2 separate regions of the Homo sapiens genome follow, and region 2 is linked to region 1. The links come from fine-mapping of genetic effects on gene expression. A gene starts in region 1. The other region holds a variant in brackets. All regions are shown on one strand. Distances are from middle to middle.

The links. PIP is the estimated chance that this variant, and not a neighbour inherited with it, causes the effect. A credible set is the group of variants that fine-mapping cannot tell apart.
Region 2: its variant is the best candidate, but not a certain one, in a credible set for the expression of ZNF32 in whole blood (INTERVAL, PIP 0.69).

The regions. Positions count from the first base shown.
Region 1 is chr10:43,647,725-43,650,637 of GRCh38, forward strand. ZNF32 (zinc finger protein 32) reads right to left here and starts at 1,157. Exons shown (of 3, transcript NM_006973.3): 1 at 1,078-1,157. The region is part of intron 1 of ZNF32-AS3 (ZNF32 antisense RNA 3); the gene reads left to right. ZNF32-AS2 (ZNF32 antisense RNA 2) reads left to right here. Exons shown (of 3, transcript NR_047558.1): 3 at 1-295. RefSeq lists a silencer at 663-1,182.
Region 2 is chr10:43,521,907-43,524,819 of GRCh38, forward strand. It overlaps a transcript of ZNF487 not described here and the pseudogene LOC100130881. Among named protein-coding and RNA genes, the nearest start is that of ZNF239, 51 kb to the right of the region's middle. The variant C/T (reference allele first, on the strand shown) is at 1,075.

The DNA.
Region 1 (2,913 bases):
GTATTCTTGCTCAACAGCTGCACACACATTAAAAGTCCCTGGGGTACATGGCGCCTGCTGCCTGGGGTTGGACTCTGTCGCCGGGGATTCCAGAAATTAGAGTAGAATTCACAGCTCTGCCTCTCCACCTGCTGTGAGGTCTTCAAGTTACAACTCCGCCGCCTATCAGGGACCTCCGTGATTAGTAAGGGAGAAATTGTCATATTTTTCTCCCTAGATCACAGGTCTGAGGAAGCAGTTTCCCCAAGATTTTGTAAAAGTGGCTTTATAATTAAAAACATTGATTTTCCTATTAGAAAGGCTACTATATCCTTTGGAAAAAGCTTAGAAGTAGTCCGTGAGTCTTGGCTTCTTGCCGTGGCTCCCCCAGGATATGATCTTGGGCGAGTAACCCAGCAGCCCTGACTCTGCTTCCCCACTTATTAAACAGGTTACTAACACTGTCCTATCAGGTAGGACAATGAGAAGGAAAGAACCAAACAAGAGGAGTATCAGACGAGACCACCAGACTTAAGATCTAAAATCCGGCGTCCTCTGGAGGGCGGATGAGAAGAGGGGTACACTTGGCGGTCTGGAAAATGTCCTGGGGCCAGTTTCAGGTTTAGGAGCTTGTGGGTAGCGTGGTTTCCCACACGCTGCCTGGCTTCCTACTCTCCCCCGCAGGGGCTGCCTCTCCTCCCACCCCGGAAGGCCGGCACCGGCTTCCCGCACTCGCTGAAGCCCGCACGGAGGCCGGGTGAGCCTGCCGCGGCCTCCCCCTCCCACGCCCCGACGCCATGGGCCCTGCTCCTCTCCGCAGACGCTGCCCTCCCGCCTCAGGCCCCGGGCCCCGGGCACCGGGCCCGCCCTGCGTCCTGAACCTCGGCATCCCGCTCTCCGGTCCACGGGACCCTGCTCTGCGGACCGCCGACCTCTCCGCTCGCGGCTGGCCTCCCTCGGGGCCCGGGCCGGCCAGGCCTGCTCATTTCCTTGGCGGCCGCTGGCATAAGGCGGCCACACGGAGGGCCCGGGACAGCGGTCTGATGGCGCAGCCCCGCCTTGCCCCGGCGCTCTGACCCGGCCAGCGGCCTCACTCACCGCAGCGGCGCGTGCCCGCAGACAAAGGCCGGCGCCGAGCCCGCAGCAGCGCCAGCGCCGGCGCCGGCGGAATGGACTACAACTCCCAGGAGTCTCCCCGCGAGCCCGCCCGCCGGGCCGTGGGTCTCGGCGGCCCCGGCTTCCCAAGAGCTCTGTGGGAAATGTAGTTCTCTGGCGCGCCCTGCGCTCGGGCCCCGCAGGTCCCTAGGGCGCGGGGACCTCAAGCCGTCCCGTTTGGACTGGTAATCCGGAGACTCACAGCGGTGACCTGTCAGCGGACGCGGAGCCGGGACGGAGCCACGGCCGCTCAGATTAGCAGGATCTGATTGACAGCATCGGGGTAGCAGACGCTGAGCCAGGGACTCAGGAATACAGGGTTCTTGCAGGGCGTCGCGGAAGGAAACGAAGTTTTTGGGAGAAATCCGTTTGATAAAGCCTTGGCGGCTTCGAGGTCATGTGTTGAGCCTCTGGCTGCATGAACAAAAGCGAAGCCCGCTTTCATGGAGCTTCTGTGAAGAGCAACAGGAACACAGGCAGTCCAGTCGTCCTGAGATACTGGGAGGAGCATGGTTGCTTTTGAACACGTAGGAGATAAAGCCTCTCTAATAATGCCTGTTTTTTTTTTTCCTTCACTCTGTCTCCCAGGCTTGAGTGCAGTGGCACGGTGTCGCCTCACTGCAACCTCCGCCTTCTGGGCTCAAGTGATTCTCCTGCCCCAGCCTCCCAAGTAGCTGGGACTACAGGTCTGTGCCACCATGCCTGGCTAATTTTTTTGTATTTTTAGTAGAGATGAAGGTTTTACCATGTTGGCCAGGCTGTCTGATATGCCTTAAGCCTCTTTTAAACGCACTTTTCCAGGATCGGGGCCACATCCTGGAGCTGTTCTGCCTGGCCGGGTGTATCTCTGGGTCCCTGCCTCTGGAGCCCCTCTCCGTAGATGTGTCTGTCCATCCTCTTTCGTGAAGGACTAATAAAGAATGCTTCCTCTTGCTATGTTCTTGTTCTCTACCCCAAAGCCACAGATTTGTTAAATCAAACAACTTAATTTCACTCAATATGCAAAGGTGTCTGTAAGTAATAAGTTGATTCCTAAATGTTAGCTTTTACTATTGCACATCATTTCTGAATTTCATTCAACATTTATCCGTTGAATCCATTTTAAGTGCTGACACTGGGGATACGAATGTGAGCAAGACACACTCCGTGCTCCTAGGGAGGAGCTGACAGTCTGGTGGAGCAAACAAACACCACCTTCCTCACATGGGGGTCGGGGTGTTGCACAGCTAAGTCCCAGAGTGTGTGGTGCAAACTGTCCTGAAGCTCCCCATTCCTGAACTGCCCCAGGTGGCTCCTCTCCTCACTCCTCCCAAGTCTGAGAAAGGGGTGGAGGGCGGCACACAGCAAAGGCCAAGGCTCAGAGTCCTAAGGCTGCGGCCTCTGCTTCACACAAGGGTACATAGGTTCTGTTAAGGTCAAGACCGGCTGTGGACACTAGGACAAGTTTCAGATCCTGCCGTGAAGGTACATGACAAAGCATTGGTGGGAAAAGGTGGCTGTGAGGGGGGACCATCGTCACTTTTATAGATCTGCATAAATTCCCTTAAGGCGTCTCAGGAAAGTGGACACATTGAAGGGCCCAAAGCAGGGGAGAAAGCTGTTAGGATTGGGGTTGATGTGACCCCAGCCTCCATAGACAGACTGCCCAGCTGCAAAATGGGGCACATCCTCACCCACCACCTGCATCTTAAGGCAAATACTCAACAAAAGGGAGGGTGTGGGGTGAGGGTGAAAGGGAAATCATCCGCAGTGTAGATTTGAAAAATTACCAAAGAACAA
Region 2 (2,913 bases), 130 kb before region 1:
CTTTATATATACAAAAAGAGTTGTGTGAGGTACAAGACTGTTTATGAAATAAATTGATAAATAGGGAAATTTTATGATTTGATGGCTATGACAGGTTCATTAATGACAACTGTGGTAAAAGAAAATGAAGATACAACAGCAGAATAAAACTACATACCTGATCTTGTTTCCATAGCCTACATGTATGCTTTCTCTGGACATTGGCTTTTGGTGTGAATCAGCTAGAGTAAGAATTACTGTCTGGGCAATAGGAGTTTTCTTTTGCACATGGAAAATTATTGCTGTCTGAAATTGTAATTTGGTGTTGATGAGTGGAAGAGAAAAGAAGAGCCAGGCAAAGTGGCTCATGCCTGTAATCCCAGCACTTTGGAAGGCTGAAGTGGGCAGATCACTTGAAATCAGGAGTTTGAGACCAGCCTGGCCAATATGGTGAAATCCCATCTCTACTAAAAATACAAATACCACTTGCTAGTATGTGTCCACTGATTTACTACTCATTCAGATAATTTAAAAGAAATCAGAGATAGAGCAACACCTGCTAGGACCTTAGGGTGCGGTGGCTCATGCCTGTAATCTCTGCACTTTGAGAGGCTGAGGTGGTAGGTTTACCTGAGGTCAGGAGTTCGAGACCAGCCTGGCAAAGATGGCGAAACCCTGTCTCTACTAAAAATACAAAAATCAGCCAGGCACGGTGGCGGGTGCCTGTAATCCCAGCTACTTGAGAGGATGAGGCAGGAGAATCACTTGAACCTGGGAGGTGGAGGTTGCAATGAGCCAAGATTGTGCCATTGCAATCCAGCCTGGGCAAAGAGCTAGATTCTGTCTCAAAAAACAAAAAATAAAAAAAATAAAAACAAAGAAAAGAATTAGTGATGCATTGGAAACATATGTATTAGTGAGTATTTTACAGCAGGAGATAAAAACCTACATTTGCCTCCTCCAAACTTAATTTTTTCTTTGCCGTCACCCCTCAAACACTATCACCTGATTTTTTTTCTGGCAATTTTACCTACTATTCAATGCTTTCGATGATTCCCCTTCATGCCTCTACCATTCATCCTAAAATACCATTTG[C/T]TGTATTTGTTTATTCCACTTTATCCAGTTTTGAAGGTCACATTTCTAAAGTGCCAGATTACTGTGTTTTTATTTGCAGATTCCTCTCCTTTTTTCATATTCAGTTTGTTTTGTCTAATCCTAAGGGAGTGAGATGTATGCCTTCAGGATTACTTTCAGACCAGATGCCTGGGCTATCCTAGAGCATTTGCATGTTACATCCCCTTTCCACATGAAATGTGTTAATATTTATAAGATATGGTAAACTATTCTCATTTCTAGAATTCTGGAAAGTTGACCTGATGGAGAAGAACCAGGAAAACCAAGACCAGCATTTGAGGAAAGCTGGTTTTGTCAACAACAAAATACTGATGGAAGACAGAAATAGTGTTTTAGGAGAAACATTTAATATAAATTCAAACCTTGTTCCAATGAGAAAAATACCTGATAAATATGACTTATGTATAATGAACGTGAATTATATTTCAGAATTAATTGTTAGTAATAGAAACTCCTTTGGAAGGAAGCTTGATGAGCTCAGTGCACATGCGAAATTGCTCCTTCATATGACATGAGCATCCTTATGCCAGAGAGAAACATTTTGAGTGTGACAGAAATGAGAAAGCCATCTGTTAGAATGAGGACTTATTTCAGCATCAGGATATTCAAACTCTGAAGCAAATTTTTGAATACCTTGAGTGTGGGAAAGCTTTTCATGAGGAGGCAGCCTTCAGTACCCATAAGAGAGTGTGCTTCTGGGAGAAACCTTGTGAATATAATGAACAACTAAGAGCCTTTTCTGACAATCCAAACCTCCTTGTTCATCAGAGTACTCACAGAAGGGAAAATCACTACGAGTTTAATTGCTGTGGGAGGAGGTCTGTTGGTGAGAAATCTCTAAATAAACACCATGGAGGAATCATGGGGAAAAAATACTATGAGTGTGAGAATAATTTTGGCAAAAGTCACTCTTTATTGACACTGAAAGAACTCAAAAAGGAAAAACAAGCTTTGAATGTAATGAAGGTAGGGAAATCTTTAAGAAACCAAGTCTCTCTCAACAGCATACATACGCAGAAAAGAAAACCTTTCAAAATAGTCATTATGGGAGTTCTTTTTGGCATATGTCAGTTCTCCCTAAACATCAGCAAACACACGTAGGAGGAAAGTTCTATGAATGTAATGAGTGTGGGAAAGCTCTCAGCCACAGTTCATCTATCATAGTACATAATAGGATATACACAGGGGAGAAACTTTATGAATGTACTGAATGTGAGAAAACCTTCACAAATAGGTCAGGCCTTACAGTTCATTGGCAGATACACACAGGGCAAAAACCCTAAGAATGTATTGAATGTGTCATGCACATTCGATACATACAAATGCAAAGTGTCATTAGGTTATGTGACTTATATCTGAAGGGAAGCCTTTAGATATAAGTCAGTCCTTACAGTACATCAGTACATCAGAGAACACACACAGGTGATAAACCCAATGAGTGTAGTGAATGTGGGAAAAAATTCTGTGAGAAGTCATATCTCCAAGTACATCAGAGAACTCACACAGGGGAGAAATCCCATGAGGGTAAAGAATGTGGAAAAACCTTTGTTTACAATTCATTCCTCATAGTACATCAAAGGATACACATAGGTGTAAGACCCTATTAATGTAACGAATGTGGGAAAACATTCTCACAAAAGCCAGACTTCACTTATCATCAGAGAACTCATACTGGAGAAAGGCCCTGTGAATGTAATGAATGTGGGAAGTCTTTCTCAGTGAAGTCAAAACTTATTGTGCATCAGAGAACTCACACAGGGGAAAAACCCTATGAATGTAATGAATGTGGGAAAACCTTTT